5 linked regions of the Homo sapiens genome follow. The protein of the gene in region 4 interacts with the protein of the main gene of each other region in a pairwise test. Each region holds a gene or a part of one and is shown on either strand. Other genes may lie near its edges.

Evidence for each region.
Region 1: the proteins of ADARB1 (region 4) and DCN interact in a two-hybrid assay, tested with the Homo sapiens proteins (one large-scale study listed by BioGRID and IntAct).
Region 2: the proteins of ADARB1 (region 4) and LARP6 interact in a two-hybrid assay, tested with the Homo sapiens proteins (one large-scale study listed by BioGRID and IntAct).
Region 3: the proteins of ADARB1 (region 4) and EDIL3 interact in a two-hybrid assay, tested with the Homo sapiens proteins (one large-scale study listed by BioGRID and IntAct).
Region 5: the proteins of ADARB1 (region 4) and NVL interact in a two-hybrid assay, tested with the Homo sapiens proteins (one large-scale study listed by BioGRID).

Annotation. Positions count from the first base shown.
Region 1 is NC_000012.12:91,142,381-91,144,819, forward strand, and holds part of DCN (decorin isoform a preproprotein), read right to left. Parts: 3' UTR 1-2,439. UniProt on the Homo sapiens protein: May affect the rate of fibrils formation.
Region 2 is NC_000015.10:70,833,655-70,837,176, forward strand, and holds part of LARP6 (la-related protein 6), read right to left. Parts: intron 2,852-3,522; coding exon 2,641-2,851; intron 1-2,640. UniProt on the Homo sapiens protein: Regulates the coordinated translation of type I collagen alpha-1 and alpha-2 mRNAs, CO1A1 and CO1A2. Stabilizes mRNAs through high-affinity binding of a stem-loop structure in their 5' UTR.
Region 3 is NC_000005.10:84,059,868-84,063,389, forward strand, and holds part of EDIL3 (EGF-like repeat and discoidin I-like domain-containing protein 3 isoform 1 precursor), read right to left. Parts: intron 618-3,522; coding exon 433-617; intron 1-432. UniProt on the Homo sapiens protein: Promotes adhesion of endothelial cells through interaction with the alpha-v/beta-3 integrin receptor. Inhibits formation of vascular-like structures. May be involved in regulation of vascular morphogenesis of remodeling in embryonic development.
Region 4 is NC_000021.9:45,179,076-45,182,597, reverse strand, and holds part of ADARB1 (double-stranded RNA-specific editase 1), read right to left. Parts: intron 2,269-3,522; coding exon 2,154-2,268; intron 14-2,153; coding exon 1-13. UniProt on the Homo sapiens protein: Catalyzes the hydrolytic deamination of adenosine to inosine in double-stranded RNA (dsRNA) referred to as A-to-I RNA editing.
Region 5 is NC_000001.11:224,229,154-224,232,675, forward strand, and holds part of NVL (nuclear valosin-containing protein-like), read right to left. Parts: exon of another isoform or gene 3,495-3,522; intron 2,144-3,494; coding exon 2,073-2,143; intron 1-2,072. UniProt on the Homo sapiens protein: Participates in the assembly of the telomerase holoenzyme and effecting of telomerase activity via its interaction with TERT. Involved in both early and late stages of the pre-rRNA processing pathways.

The sequences.
Region 1 (2,439 bases), on a different chromosome or scaffold from region 4:
GCAATTCTTCCTTCGTATAAAGATAAGATTATGATATCCTGCAGCTGCCTCTGCAATAAAATTGTGGAATAAACCAGTTTCTTGGAAAAGCATTATGGAGAACGGTAAAGGAATATAAAAAAGATAATAGTGATGATTCAGACAAATGAATGAGCAGAAGAAGAGGAGATCCAAGTTATGCCTAATTTATGTCATGAGAATTACATAGTAACATTTATTGCCAGATCAAAGTCTTTGAAGAAAAATGCTTTAAAAGATCATGAATACTGTGTTCTGGAAAATCTGTGTCACTTGAATAAACTAAGATGGCTGTACTGAAGACAGAAAGTGGTATGGCCTAGGCTAGCATAAATGTACAACAGAGGCCTTTCCAACCAGGAGGGGTCAGAGACAAATTTTTAAGTTTCCAACCTTTTATGTGAAGCACCCATAATCGAACAACAGTTTTAATGAAAACAAAAAAATTAAACATTTAATAAGGAAAAAAGAAAGTGGATATTAATGATTAAGTTGTGTCTCCTCCCAGAAGATATGTTCAATATCAAACCCCCAATACCTGTGAGTCTGACTTCATTTGGAAATAGAGTCTTTGCAGATATAATCAAGTTAAGATGGGTTCATACTAAATTAGGGTGAGCCTTAATCCAATATAACTCATGTTCATAGAAGAAGAAGAGAAAAGACACAAACACATGAGAGAGAAGGCCATGTGAGGGTGAAGATGGAGGCATAAATTAGAGTCACGCTGCCATAAGGCAAAGAACACCTAGATTTAACCAGAAACCTAGGAGGAGCAAGGAAAGGTCCTCTCCTAAAGGCTTTGGAAGGAATCTGACCCTGCTGACACCTTGATTTTGAATTTTTAGCCTCCAGAATTGTGAGAAAGTAAGTTTCTGTTGTTTTAAGCCACCCAGTTTTTGGTACTTTATTATAGCAGCTGTGAGTTCCTTACAGAGGCCAATAAGCAGGAGACAAAAGACAGACATGGTACAATAGGAAACGAGAGGACTCTCTGCTGACTTATTTCTCCAAGTGTGGACCAAGAAGCAGCAGCATTCCTGGAAGTTTGTTTGAAATGCAGAATCTCAGACCTCGATCCAGAACTGACACATAAGAATTTCCCTTGAAATGATTATAGCTCGAACTGTGTGCCTGTAATAACAATGGCAGTAGCAACACCATAGTTGAGCCCTTTCCATTTACTCTACTTTGATCTATAAGTTATATTCTACACTCGCTAACTGAATTCACACACCAATCCATAAGACATGTACAATTAATATTCCCATTTTATGGACAAGGAAATGAGTCACAGAAAGGTTAACTAGCTTCCCTTAGTCATGCAAATAGTAAGTGTCGAAGCCAAAGAAATCAGCTATATTTATCTTTATTTCAAAGGAAATAAAGATACATATATATGTATATATGCAAAAAGATATATATATAAATATATATATATAAAGATATATATGTGTGTATATATATAAAGATATATATGTGTGTGTATATATATAAATATGGGGGGAAGTTGTGTTGACAAGAGTGCTGGAGAATCAGGCCTGTTTCTCATTTTGATACTGAACAAAATTAGAAGTAGCTTGACTACTGGAAAAGTGTGTTGGATCTGCCTTGCAGATAAGTGTCCAAAATGGTCTTCCCCTCTTTAGATTTCTACTTATTTCTCACCACACTTGTCAGTTAAGCAGCAGGATATCTGCAGGCTTTTCCCCATAAGAGAAAGGCTGCAGCATAAAGGGTATATCATTCAAGGCTATAACATGGAGTGTGCATCATTGAAGGCTACAACATGAAGGGTGCGTCACTCAAGGCTACACCATAAAGGGTGAATCATTCAAGGTTACAATAAGAAGGGTGAATCGTTAAAGGCTATAGCATGAAGGGTGCATTATTCATGGTTACAACAGAGAGAAGGATGCATCATTCAAGGTCCAGCTCTGAACAACAACAAAAAAAGTCCATTTATGGACATGCACCTTGAATTCCTGAATGTCTTCCAATAGAAACCACCTATTCAACTGTAGTCATGAGAGGAGGATCTCTTGGGAGATGAAAAAGAGAAGAAAAAGAGAGGTTTCTTCCCTCTTATTAAAAATACTGGAAAATTCAGATTTTATGGTCCTGCAAGAATGTGGAAAGATGGAAAAGAGTAACTTTCCCTAATGTTAATATTACCTCGGGATATGTCAAATGTAAATGAAAATTATTGCTTCTGTTTCAGAAGAAGAAAAATAGTTTGATTAAGCCTCCTTTATGCCAACCTGTCAGAGGTGTGTCCCAGCATACGTCTTGGATTTTGAACTTAGTCCCTGTCTTGAATAGTGCCTCCCCACCAAATCTTGCTCTTGAACTATTATGCATCTATGGAAACCCACCTCAACTGTTATCTCCTCAAGTTTTTCATGTTCCACTGCACTCATT
Region 2 (3,522 bases), on a different chromosome or scaffold from region 4:
TAAGTAATCATGTGCTATCATTACTTCCAATATTACATGCTATTATTTTGATAGGATTTGGAGATTTTAACATTCAAATGCTTCTCTAAAGCAGTATTTCTGCATTTCTGCATTTGATACAGAGAAGTTTCCAAAAGATCTTTCGCATTTCACTGCAATATCTCCTGAGAATGACATGGACTACTTCAACTTGAAATTAAATCCAACTTGGGCCTCACTAAGAATGGTGAAATAATCCCTCCCTCCTCCTTTGTTGGTGGAAATTGTATCAATGTTGCAGTATATGGAAGCTATATTTATACTGTAAAACAGTAATTTTCTAGAGGCCCACTTCCGGTGAAGGGAATGCCAGGGGGAATGAGTCATCCCAAACAAATAGTGAAGGTGGGTGGGGTGGGTAACCTGAGCCCGTAATGGCGAGATCCCCCTGAGTCCTCTGAGAACAGGCCAACAAGCTGCTCTGCAAAAGAACTGGGAACTCCAGGTGCCTCTGAGCATAAAACAGGAACTTCATGAAACTCAAGAAGGAAAGGCTCACTCACTGGGCAAGATGGGGAAACCTTGGCAGACCCATTACTATACACAGGCTCCTAGAGAGAGAGCACTGTCCACTGTAGCCTGTGGTCTCTGGGAGAAATGGCTCAGACTTAGGCTACTAGAAGAACACGGGTCCAAGGGCACAGAGAAGCAGGCCCAGGCAAAGGGTCGGATTTCAGGTGGACAGAGTCCATGAGGAATCCAGAAAGGGTGAAGCTGATGACTGCGGGTGCGTGTGAGGCTGTGGGAAAGCCAGGCAGTGGCTCACTGTGGGGTGAAACATGGTGAAGCCTTCTCCGAAAACAGCTAGGGAGGGAGCACTTGGGAGATAAAAAGAGACAATTTCCTAAGCCTGAAGCTTGAGCTAGGAGCACCTGGGAAAGCACAGCACTGCCTTACTCAGAGGGCTACAGAAGTCTGTGGGGGACCACATCTCACTGCAAGAGAAGCAGGCTCTGGCTAGGACTGAATATCCCTCCTGAGCCAGAAGCAAGGTCCACTGGGAAATCTCGGTTACAGTCTGAGCATCCTAAGCCTGGGTCCATGACCATTCATAAGGAAGGTCCAGGTAGCACCTGAGAAAAGGGACCAGGGAGCGTTCATCCTTGTGCAATTGCTAGAAGAACTCTAAGGTTTCCCTGTGCTTTTTACCTTTGTCATGTATGTTCCCCTTTTGTGATTAATAGGAAATCCTTCAGAATGAAAAGGATCTTTGCTCTGATTTTGGAGGTGTTAGGGAGTCTGTCTGTACTCTGCAGCCAGGTTTCAACAGAGAAGAACATTCCTAAATAGGACCATAAGTGGCAGCTTAAAGAGGAAAGCAAAACAGGCTGACTCTTGGGGTCCCTGGGGAGGAATAAAGAGACGTGCTGGATGATTCCACTGGCTGCTTCATTTTGGGATCCCCCACAAACACTTTTCATATGAAGGTTTGCTCACTGTTCTCTGACCATTAAAATATCCCTTCCATTCCCCTGTACCTAGAAAACTCCTACTCATCCTCCAAAATCCTATTTCAATGTCACCTTCTCTGGGAAGACTTCTCAGTTCTCCAGGCAGGGTTAGTTGCTCTGATCAACTAGTTCCCAATAATACTGTGTTCTCTCTTTTGTCCTACTATATGTGGTCACATTGTAATCTTTCAGATCTCTCTCCTTTATTGGACTGTGAGCTTGTCAAGGACAGGGGGAGTACGATCTTCACTCTGTACATCCTGCGCCTAGCACAGCACTCAGCAGAGACAATGAGCATATTTGATGAATGAATAAAGGAAAAAGAGCGACAGGGCCAGGCAGAGTACACCAGTGGGTGAGGCAGGGAAGAGGTCCAAGGAGAAAAGCTCTCCTCCAGTGCACTCTGACAAAGTACACAGACAACTTGGCCGGGACCCACTTGTTACGCATCCCGTTATGCAACAGGCCGCGTAGTGCTTTTCCATTCTAGTAAATGCACTTCCCCTAAGGGAGACACAGAGTTCTTACTCCAACTAGTCTGTCAACTCTCTGAGAAGTAGACAGTACACAGCCCAAACACTGGATCTATATATGGCAGGGACAAGCAGTCTGCTGCCCAGATGGCAGCAATAATTACAAATCTCATCTCCCTATTGTATAGATAAGGATGATGGCGTCACACAGGCAGAGCATGTGTGTCTTAGAGAAGGCTCATTTCTGAGAGTTCTGGGTGCTCATTCTCTCCCTTTGCTTATTCAACTTGACAAATGAAAAGCTTGAATTTCATATAATTTTAGGCCTGGCAGGTATCTCTCAAGGCCTTCGAGTCCGTCTGTCCTGGTATCACATCCTCCTGGCCACCCACTTGCCTGGCAAAAGTGCCTGAACTTTACTAAGAACAAGTAACATTGTTTCATAACTGCTGCCAGCTGAGATTTGTCCCAATGCCCAGGACCCTTTTAATAGTGTGGGAGTATATTCCTAACAATACTAAATCCCTTCTCCTAGCCATTTTTCTCTTTTTCAGGCACAGACTTAATTTTAAAAATTGTTCGTCATCAGGTTTCAAGGGAGTTAAAAAAAATGTTTAAAACCACAACCCAAAACAAACTTGAAATCCTTGAAGCAGCTTCTGAGAACCAAGCCTCACCTTTTTGAAGGATGTGAGTAGCTTAACGCTCACATATCCCAGCTTGTTCCTCCTCACGTGTTTTAGCAAAAAGGCGTCCTTCTCCAGGTTTTCATCAGAAAAGTAGAATTCGATCTGATCCACCAGTTTCTTGATCAACTCCTCATCCGGGGGCTTCCACTCCTGCTCCAGGTCCTCACGCTCGTTCTCACCTCCACTTGCAGTGGTGCCACTGAGACCAGAAGGAGACACCGGGTGTTAGGGTCAACGTTGAACTGTGTCCCCCAAAAATTCATATGCTGAAGTCCTGACCCCCAATACCTTGGAGTATGATGTTATTTGGAAATGGGGGTCACTGCAGATGCAATTAATTAAGATGAGGTCTTACTGGAGTAGGGTGGACCCCCTAATCCAACACAACTAGGGTCCTTACCAAAGGGGTAAATTTGAACACAGACATGCACACAGAGAGAACATCATGTGAAGGCGAAGGGAGAGACTGGGGTGATGTAGCAAAACTCAAGGAATGCCAAAGACTGCCACCAGAAGCGAGGAAAGATGCTTAGAATGGATCCATTTCTAGTACTTTCAGAGGGCGCATGGCCCTATTCACACCTTGATTTCGGGCTTCAGGCCTCCAGAACCATAAAACAATATATTTCTGTTGTTCTAAACCATCCAGCTCATGGTATTTTGTTACAGCAGCCCTAGGAATTGACACTGGGTCACATGGCCACAGAAGGAGAGGTTTGCCCCCAAACAGCTAAGAAGTCAATCTTTCATTTTTAACAAGCATGGAGGATCATAAAAATAATAACTGGCCAGGCATCGTGGCTCCCATCTGTAATACCAGCACTTTGGGAGGCTGAGGTAGGTGGCCTGAGCCCAGGAATTTGAGACCAG
Region 3 (3,522 bases), on a different chromosome or scaffold from region 4:
ACCACAGGTAAGGAGCTAATATGTCATGAGTCATGATTCTACGTGAACAGTTTGCAGGTCAGTGGCATGATTTCAATGCCCTTTGGATTCTTGCTGTCATGCTTTCAAAGCCAATATTAATACAAAGTATTAGAATGGATGAGAGTTAAGATGCAAATGCTCTCCTAATCAATCAATTGACATACACATAGTGTGATCTGGTACAGTCTCCTGCATCAAGCTTACACTAGCATCTATAAACCAACACCAGCGTAAAAATAGCCCACAGACATGGTTTCATAAGGAATTTGTGTTTTACCAATTTAGTTAAACCGAAGATGAAGGCACATTTAAATTAGCGTGAAGGTAACGACTCTGACACTCACCTAATCAACAGGAAATCTTCTAAGAAAGAGGAACAGTGGGTAGTGAAACAGTTTTGGAAAACTTTACCTGTAACCATTGTGACTGGTCATTGTGGCCAGAGGTCCAGGCATTCACTTTGCCTTGCTTGTCCAGCCGAGCTTTCCTTGGTTCCCAAGTGAACATGTCCATGTTGAGCGTTCTGAAGATGCTGGAGGCAGTGATCTGATAGTCTTGTATATGTCCTGATTTCATACCCAGAGGCTCAGAACAACCTGAAAGAAAATGAGAAGGGCTCCATGAGAAAAATAATTGATCACCTGGAACTTTTCTGCATTCATTTTGGATAGGCAAGAGAAGATTAAACATAATGCTATTCATTCCTCCAAAGAGAAAACATCTAAATCCAAAAAAAAGCTATAATCAGAAATAAATCTGAAACAAAATCGAAAAACAAGATAGTCAATTCAAGCTATTTTGTCTGAATATATTTTGGAAAAATTGAAAACAAGACAGACAATTTAAACTACTTTTCTGTGATAGATGATTCTGCAAAATGAAAACAATGCTGAAATGCTCTCTCCTGTCTCATTACTGGAGGCCTCCTGACTGCTCCCCAGTTTTCAACAGTTTCATTGTGTCTTTAAAAATGGGACATTTTCTCACAAAGTATTGTTTTTCTTTTATTTGTTTTCAAATTACTGCAAATGAAAATTCCCTCAGTACAAAGTCATTTTCACAAGCTGCTCTACTGCTGTATTCTAAACCGGACAGCATTTTGTTTTTCAAGAAATATGTTAATCTTCATCACTGATTCTTATAGCACCAACATGGCTTCTTCTGTAAGAGAGGAATCTAGTATTTACTGAGGGTATGCCATGTGCCAGGCATTGTGCAAGCATAATTTAAACTAATAGATAACAGAAGATAATAAGATAATTCTAGCAATAACCACCACTGAACAAACCTTTTAATACATTATTTTATTTCAATCATATTCAATAACCTATAAAGTTTAGATATTTTTGTAAGATTCTCAAATCTACCACATGTATTTTTGAGTTTAATACGGTAAAAATTTTGGCTTGCTTGTCCTTGAAAAATTATATGCATGCACATATGTTTGTGTGTGTATACATAGACACAAAATTTCCCAGTCTTGGATTGCAACTGTGACAAAATGCTCTTTACAATTTTTGTAATAGAAAGCATGATTCTATCATCATATGAGCCCGGGGCTGAGTCTTCTTTATGTGAAACTGTTAAATTTTGGTCAAGTAACTCACAAGGTAAGTTTGATCATCAAAGAAACAAAGATGACAAGAGGACACTCCTCCAACCCAATACTTTCTCCTCACACTCTACTGTCTCCCATTTCCCAGCTGTGTAGCCTTGCCCTGTTATTTAACAACTTTCTACCTAAATTTTCTCATCTGTAAGATGGTGATAATAATAGAAACTACCTCAAGGAAGTATTCTAAGAAATTACTTAATAAACATAAAGTACTTAGAAACAGTGCTGGCACACAGCATTCAGTCAATGTTAACTATTTGTATGATTTCTGTAAAACTCATCCCAACAGATGGCAATGGTAAGTCCCCAAATATCAGCATATCAACAAGTACTCAATAATATTTAATTATTGGGTACAGTTTCTAAAACTAGACCTTTTTTGGAGTCTAAACTATAAAAGAGGTGCTTTAGAACTCTTCATTGATCAATAACTCTTAGCTATAACTAATTGCCTTCTGTCCTGGTCTATCTAGATTACTTCTACCTTCTTGAGGCTCCCCATATTTCCCTTCACCTCCACCATCTAGGAAATGCATATCCTATGAAAACATGGAAAACATGACATGGAGGGCTGTGTGTCTTAACACGAGTACATTTTGGTATAGGAGATAAGTATCTGAAGCCTCATATTAAAGATAGCTGTAATGCCTACCTGTATATTCTGGGTGAAAAAAAAGTCATAACAATTCTCTAAGAGTCTAGAAAATTCTAACAGGCTTAATGGCAAGCTGTTTATCTTCAGGAAGTTAGTTTCATAGTGGCATGCATTGTCTACATTGAAAAATTCTGACTTGTTCTTTTATCCCCATCTTTGCCTCTACCTGCATCCCACCCCCCAAGTCTTTGAAAACTTTGCTCAGTTTGCAGGAGATACAAGGGAAGAGGAAAGATAGTTGTTTCCCTCCTTTTGTGATATAACATAGTATTGAAGTACTGGATAGAAAAGGAATGGCTTTACTTTGACCACTTCTGCTTAGCCAAAAAATTCACTTTATATCCATTCTGTTGTCTAGTATTTATCTCAGAATTGCCAAATTATTGGTTCATAGAATGAATGAATGAGTATTCCTCCTCTAATTAGGGTCATAATCTATTTTATTCCAAATATCTTAAGTCATACTTCTTTCAGTGTATTTAGGAGATGATCTTCAAAAGTGTTTGAGAAGAGATTACCTGCTCATCTTCTAGGCAGGGTGAAAGATTTTAATAGCAATTTACTGAATACAATAAGGCTTTACAGTGTTCCACTGGATTGTGGGGAGTAGTTTGGTACATTACATTAGTGTTTATTTCCAGGTGTTACAGCTAACCTCTCTGCCAATGTGCCTCATGCCACAAATTTTACTTCTTATCCATATGATTTCAAGCATATAAATTAATTAACTCTCTTACCAGTGTGGCCAGCACTTGAACAAAATGAAGTATTAACAATGAAATGGGTATTTCTATAATGAAGTGCTCTAGTTTTTTAAAGCATCCATTGAGAGATATTACTCTCTGCATGCAAGTTCAAAATCAATTTGCTGTGCTGGGAGATGCAGCACTGCTTCTTTTTGAGAAAATAAAACCTGTAAAGTGTCAGGTGCAATGTCTTGTCAAACTTGGGAGTAAAATATATTCACATCTTAGGGGTGTAACCGTGCCATGTGTGAAAGACTGACTCTCATGAATCAAAAGACTGAAAAATTGTGGAAGGTGATGTTAAGCAACTAAAAACCATGTGGCTTGCAGCAGATCTCATCATATTGTGGCTTCCTCTTGATTGCTTTATGATAAATGGCTTAGGGATGACACTGGTCTGTGGTGATATAGTGAGATGCAATACAAACACTGTATAGCAATAAGTCTGCTAAGATTTACTGGATCTTAATAACTGGAGTAAACAA
Region 4 (3,522 bases):
TTAACATCTGTGCCTGAAAAAAAAAAAAAGAGACACTATTTTCTGTAATTCACAGTAATGTTTGCCTAACTGTGCTCCTGAAGTCTGACTCTTATTCTCAGTGACTTAACTTTTCAGGGGCCAACAGACTTTTCAAGCTCATCTTCATGCATATTCTTACCACCTATTTTTTAAGTGGGCAAATGTATACACGCAAACAACCTCCTATTGAGGACTCACTTTGTGACATTTCTGGAAAGCCAACCATCGTCATTGCTTAGTGTCCAGACACTAAACTCAAGGAAGTCATTTCCTCTGGTATGCAATAGCATCTTTTCTTGAATGCCCACAACTAGAACACAGCTGGGCAACACTATGGAAAGGTGGACTAACTGGTCTGGTAATTAATCTTGACATCAAATATCAAAGTACTGAAGAGATTAGGAAGGAGGGGTTAACGGCACCCAGAGGAATAAGAAGGAAAACAGAATTAACTTGTGATGTTTTCATTAGTAAACTGTCACCATTAACCACACTCGGAGTGAAATCACAAGCAGTGGTGAACTCCCACAGACAGATCACTCCGTCTCAACTTTGTGAGATAAACCACTGACCAGAGGTGTGATGCCAGGACCCTGGAAGTCACCTGCCGGGAAACTCGCATCCACTGCAGCTGAACCAATGGTGTGCACACCATGTGGCAGGTAAGCACCAGGTCTGTTAGGTAAATTGTCCTCACTGCATTCCCACGATGTCCTCTGAGGCTCATGCTACTAATGTCTCCACTGTATAGATGAGGGAACTGAGGCACAGAGGCCTTGTAACCTGCCCAAGTCCACTCAACCAGCGGGAGCCCCCTGAACCAGCTGTCTGGAGTGCCAAGTGCTCCAGCGTCCTGGCTTCAGATGTAAACTATGGCTCTGAGCAAGTGGTCTCAGGTGAAATACACACTAAGATGTAAGGTGTTCCCAGAAGGTGATCGGCCTCTTCTAAGGTCGTTAAAAACAACAACAACAAAAACAAAACAACAACAACAACAAAACGATGAAAGAACATGACCAGCTCACTCACCCATGCTGCTGGAAGAGGCAGGGAGTCTTACCTAGGGAACTATTCTATTCAGTCGTTGTGGTGTTCACCTTTGATTAATGTAAAAGATAGCAGTAAGGAGAGAGGTAAAAGGGGGAGAAGATACAGGTACAAAACATTAGAATAGAAGCTGCTGTTCGGGTGCTTCCTCCTCCCTGGACACGGCACGGCAAGGAAACAATGGTCATGAGCAGAGCAGCCAGGTTTCCTAGGGCAGCAAGAGGTGGGTCAGTGAAGAGGGCTGCAGAGTCTGATAGAGGTGACCCCTCAGGGGGAAAGAACAAGAAAGTCACATACCGAGAACTGGGGGTTTCTCCTGGGCTGGTGGATGTAGACAGAGAAACTGTCCCCAGCTTCCTCCCTGACCTCTAGGGTCTGCTTCCTGCATCTGGCTGTCCAGGCTGGGCTGAGCAGATGCTGGGTACAGAGACGGCCCCACATGACAGGGGTCCTCTCCCTGAGTCTTGCTCCACCCTGGGGTGCCAGACACTGGCCAAGGATGTGGCTTCCCTTCCCAGGAGCTACCCACAGAGATGCTGCTGCGTGTTCTCACTCGCGGGATGTGGGGAGAGGACTCGGGGGTTCCTTTTGCTACTGGGAACTTCTAGACTAATTTAATAGGGTTTCTTCTATCGTTCTAAATTGTGCTTTTTTTCCCCACGGATTTTCTACTCTTGCTAGAGCTCTCTCCCTCCTCAAAGGAAGTCACACTGAAACTTATCTGGCATCGTTAACATTAACTGATACAATAGATAGGCTCTACTTTCAAATAAAGGAAGAATTAGTAAGCCCCTTGCCATCTTCCAGAGCAGATTGAGGCCATTCACAGGATGAAGATGACAGGAATCAAATATTAATATAGTGTGCTTTCTCCAGATAAAACAAACTTAGGTTAAAAAGATGAACATTTTGGGAAAAAAGCTTGTAAGTGCAGTTCGTAAACTTGCATATGGCAGACATTTTGAAGAAGAAAAGAAGTAACCATCTCCCGTCGGTGTGGCACAGTGGTTTTTGTCGATTGAGAACATTTCACATTTGTCAGACATGAAAACAGGCAGGGTTACATACAACACCAAGATGGTTACCTGTTGTCATGACGACTCCAGCCAGCACTTTTCTGCGAGCGTGAGGGGAGGAGAAGTTGTCGGTCAGGTCACCAAACTTACCCAGGACCAGGCGTGAGACAGCGTCAGCTAAAACCTGTGTGGGAAGCACAGATGCAGGTTAGGGGCCAGATGCAGCTGGGAGCAGGGCTCACTCTCTCAATGCTGCACGCACTCTCCCTTATGGAGTGACACAGGCTGCTTCTCATCTGGAAGACCACACAGGTAAATCTGGCAAACAAGTATGTGTGTATGTTTCTTCCAGAACATTCCTTGGAAATAGACACCCCAGGATCCTGCCAGGCTCTGGCTGAGTCCTTCGCCACCCGCGTGGGGCCAGTGTGGAGTGTGGGCACCACACATGAGCATCCCTCCAATCCTCACCGCAGGCCAGCCCGGCCCTCAGGAGGAAACCGAGGCAAACAGGCAAAGCTGCCTGCTCAGGGCCACCTGCCCACGCCTACGCCCACCTAGTATGGCCCTCCCACCCCCCTTGCCCTCTCTCACATGCACACACGGTGTGGCTCAGTCAGCTCCAGGGCCACACACAGCTGGGAGCACAGCCCAGGATGATGTGCAAAATCAAAGGCAAGAGAAAGGGGCAGCTTGGAGATGCGATCCAGTGAAGGAAGCCACAAGCTGTGCACAGCACCTCCCTCAAAGGCGCCACCGAGAGGCTTCTCAGTCATTCCAGCCTCTCCACACAAATGCACTCTGACTCCGCTCACTCGCCCAGACGGTACGATAGAATCATGTACCAGAGAACAGCACGGGGAGGGAAAGCGCTTAGACGTTCGGAACACCTGCACAGGTATATGCTCAGGTCAGACAGACATCTGTATTAAAGTGCTTCTGAGAACAGATGTATTTGTTGGATTTTGGACATGGTCTTATGGCTTATGATTTATCTTGGATATAATGAGCCCATGGCATTTTGGGAAATGATGTCTGCTGGGAGGTGGGTGTTAAGAGCCAGTTTCAACTCATGTCCCACCAATTTCACACTTGTCTGGAAAATCAAATGACTACTAGGAAAACCCAGCATCCCCAGGTTGGTCCTTAATAAAATATTTCTGAAATGAGTAGAAAAGATAGTTGTCAGGATGTTTTTCTCTTATCATTGCACCAGCAAGTATCAGTGAGCCCCAGAGGACAGTGTTCAAGACAAGTCATGTGGAGAATGGACAGAGGCTTTGGTGGCAGGGATCCATGCACCCGCAGGCAGCGGCATCTGCAATGCAGGGGTGAGCGGACGCGAGGAACTGAGGCTGTGACAGAAACACAGGACGTGGCCAGGGTGCCAGAGGGAAGGGGCGACGCATTCCAATTGGCCAGGGTGCCAGAGGGAAAG
Region 5 (3,522 bases), on a different chromosome or scaffold from region 4:
GGTGTGGTGGCACATGCCTGTAATCCCAGCTACTCGGGAGGCTGAAGCAGGAGAATAGCTTGAACTCAGGAGGCAGAGGTTGTGGTGAGCTGCGATTGTGCCATTGCATTCCAGCCTGGGCAACAAGAGTGAAACTCTGTCTCAAAAAAATAAATAAATAAATAAATAAATAAAAAGAGTTCCAGCTGTTTCATATCCTTGCCACCATTTAGTGTTGCCAATATTTTAAATTTTAGTCATTGTGGTAGGTGTGTAGTAGAATCTCACTGTGGTCAAATTAAAAAAAAATTTTTTTTTTTGAGACGGAGTCTCAATCTGTCGCCCAGGCTGGAGTGCAGTGGTGCAATCTTGGCTCACTGCAACCTCTGCCTCCCAGGTTCAAGCGATTCTTCTGCTTCAGCCTCCTGAGTAGCTGGGACTACAGGTGCGCAGTAGCTGGGACTACAGGTGCGCGCCCAGCTAATTTTTGTATTTTTAGTAGAGATGAGATTTCACTATATTGGCCAGGCTGGTCTTGAACTCCTGACTTCGTGATCTGCCCGCCTCAGCCTCCCAAAGTGCTGGGATTACAGAAGTGAGCCACCGCGTCTGGCAAATTAACATTTTAAATGTTGGGTGGCAATTCCACTCCTGTGTATTCATCCCAAAGAAATACTTGAAGTGTGTTTTTTCTTCTGTGTTTATTTGTTTGTTTTTGAGACAAGGTTTCGTTCTGTAACCGAGGCTGGAGTACAATGGTGTGATCATGGCTCAGTGTAGCCTCAACCTCCTGGGCTCAAGTAATCCTTCTGCCTCGGTCTCCTAAGTAGCTGGGACTACAGGTGCATGACACCATGCCTGGCTAAGTTTTAATTTTTTTGTAGAGACAGGGTCTCACCATGTTGCCCAGGCTGATCTTGAACTCCTGGGCTCAAGCCATTCTCCCACCTCTGCCTCCTGAGTAGCTGAGATAACAGGCATAAGCCCCTGTGCCCAGCTCCAGAGTGATTTTTTTTTAACCCTTCTCCCACCTATGGTGAAGATGTTTTTATTTCCCTGAAATGTATGGGTAAGTCCCTATGGCTTAGTTTGGGTACAGTCTAGCTCCAAGAAATACAAAGCCATTTATCAAAAAGCGTAGAGTAGGTCAAATAATACTTGAATCAGATGATTAAAATTCTGAGATTGTGGGCTGGGCGCAGTGGCTCACGCCTGTAATCCCAGCACTTTGGGAGGCCAAGGCGGGTGGATCACGAGGTCAAGAGTTTGAGACCAGCCTCACCAATATGGTGAAACCCTGTCTCTACTAAAAATACAAAAAATTAGCCAGGCATGGTGGTGCGCACCTATAGTCCCAGCTACTCAGGAGGCTGAGACAGAAGAATCGCTTGAACCCAGGAGGCAGAGGTTGCAGTGAGCCAAGATCATGCCACTACACTCCAGACTGGGTGACAGAGCGAGACTCTGTCTCAAAAAAATAAAAAAAAAATCTGAGATTGTGGAGGCAGAAGAGGTCATTCTCTTTCTGAATAAAGTTGTTAGAGAATCTAGTTAGGAAAACTGTGTTCTAGTCCCTAAGAAACATATAAAATTAAAATCTCTCAAGAACATTCTCACAAAGGCAATTATTTTGCTTGTTTTCAGATCAAAATGAACCATGTAATTTCTTTTTAGGAAGTAGAAGTAGTATACAAAACAATCTGTAAAAGAGTTTAATTCAGCCGGGCGCGGTGGCTCACGCCTGTAATCCCAGCACTTTGGGAGGCAGAGACGGGCGGATCACGAGGTCAGGAGATCGAGACCATCCTGGCTAACATGGTGAAACCCCGTCTCTACTAAAAATGCAAAAAATTAGCCGGGGATGGTGGCGGGCACCTGTAGTCCCAGCTACTTGGGAGGCTGAGGCAGGAGAATGGTGTGAACCCGGGAGGCAGAGCTTGCAGTGAGCAGAGATCGCACCACTGCACTCCAGCATGGACGACAGAGCAAGACTCCGTCTCAAAAAAAAAAAAAAAGAGTTTAATTCATGAGGTCATATCTACTGGTCTAAAATTCTAGTTTCCTTTCTCTATGCATTTAATGGCATTGCTTACCTTTTTTGATATAGATGATCTTACTTTCTTGAAAGCTTCTTCAAAATGCTTATGACTAACCTTGAGTTCACCTATGGAGTAAATGCACAAATATACACATCTCAGTATCGTATGGTAACTGACTTAGAACTTAACTTCCTTTGAAAGACTTCAAAACTTTCAAGGGGTCCACTAAAGAGATCAGTGATGAGATGGGCTCTGTTCTTTTTCAGAACAGTATTCTAGCCAGATATATTCTGCTCATCAGATTTTAATCCAAAACCACCCAAAGAGATCTGCCACTCATAAGTTGGTAACTTTTTGTAGGCCTCTTTGCATTGTTTAACTTAATGGTGATGCCTATGAACAAGAGCCAGAATTATTCAGATAATTCAAATAAATGTAACTGGAATAGAAAGTAGGATTCCATAGTATTAATATTTAAGAGTATGCAACACACAATGAGATCTTATGGAGCCATAATATCATAGAATATTTTATATATAATATATCTCAGCACTGGTTTAGAAGGGAGCTTTAGGTCGGGCGCGGTGGCTCAGGCTTGTAATCCCAGCACTTTGGGAGGCCGAGGTGGGCGGATCATGAGATCAGGAGTTCGAGACCAGCCTGACCAATATGGTGAAATCCCGTCTCTACTAAAAATACAAAAAAAATTAAGTGGGTGTGGTGGCACACGCCTGTAGTCCCAGCTACTCGGGAAGCTGAGGCAGGAGAATTGCTTGAACCAGGAGGTGGAGGTTGCAGTGAGCCGAGATCGCGGCACTGCACTCCAGCCTGGGCGACAGAGCAAGACTCAAGTTTAGAAAATAAATAAATAAATAAATAAAAATACAGACAGGGAGGCCGGGCGCAGTGGCTCACACCTGTAATCCCAGCACTTTGGGAGGCCGAGGCAGGCGGATCACGAAGTCAGGAGATCGAGACCATCCTGGCTAACATGGTGAAACCCCGTCTCTACTAAAAATACAAAAAAAAAAATTAGTCAGGTGTGGTGGCCGGCGCCTGTAATCCTAGCTACTTGGGAGGCTGAGGCAGGAGAATGGCATGAACCCGAGAGGCGGAGCTTGCAGTGAGCCAAGATCGCGCCACTGCACTCCAGCCTGAGTGAGAGCGAGACTCTGTCTCAAAAAAAATAAATAAATAAAAATAAAAATAACAAAATAAAAATAGAGACAGGGTTTTGCTCTGTCACTCAGGCTGGAGTGCAGTGGTGCAATCATAGCTCATTGCAGCCTCGAACTCCTGGGCCTCACCCTCCCAAGTAGTTAGGACTATAGGCATGCACCACCATGCCAGTCTAATTTTTAAATTTTTTATAGAGATGGCATCTTGGTTTGTTGCGCAGGCTGCTCTCAAACTCCTGGGCTCAAGCAATCCTCCTGCCGCAGCTTCCCAAAGTGCTGGGATTACAGATGTGAGTCACCACACCCAGCAGACAATTTTTTTCCCC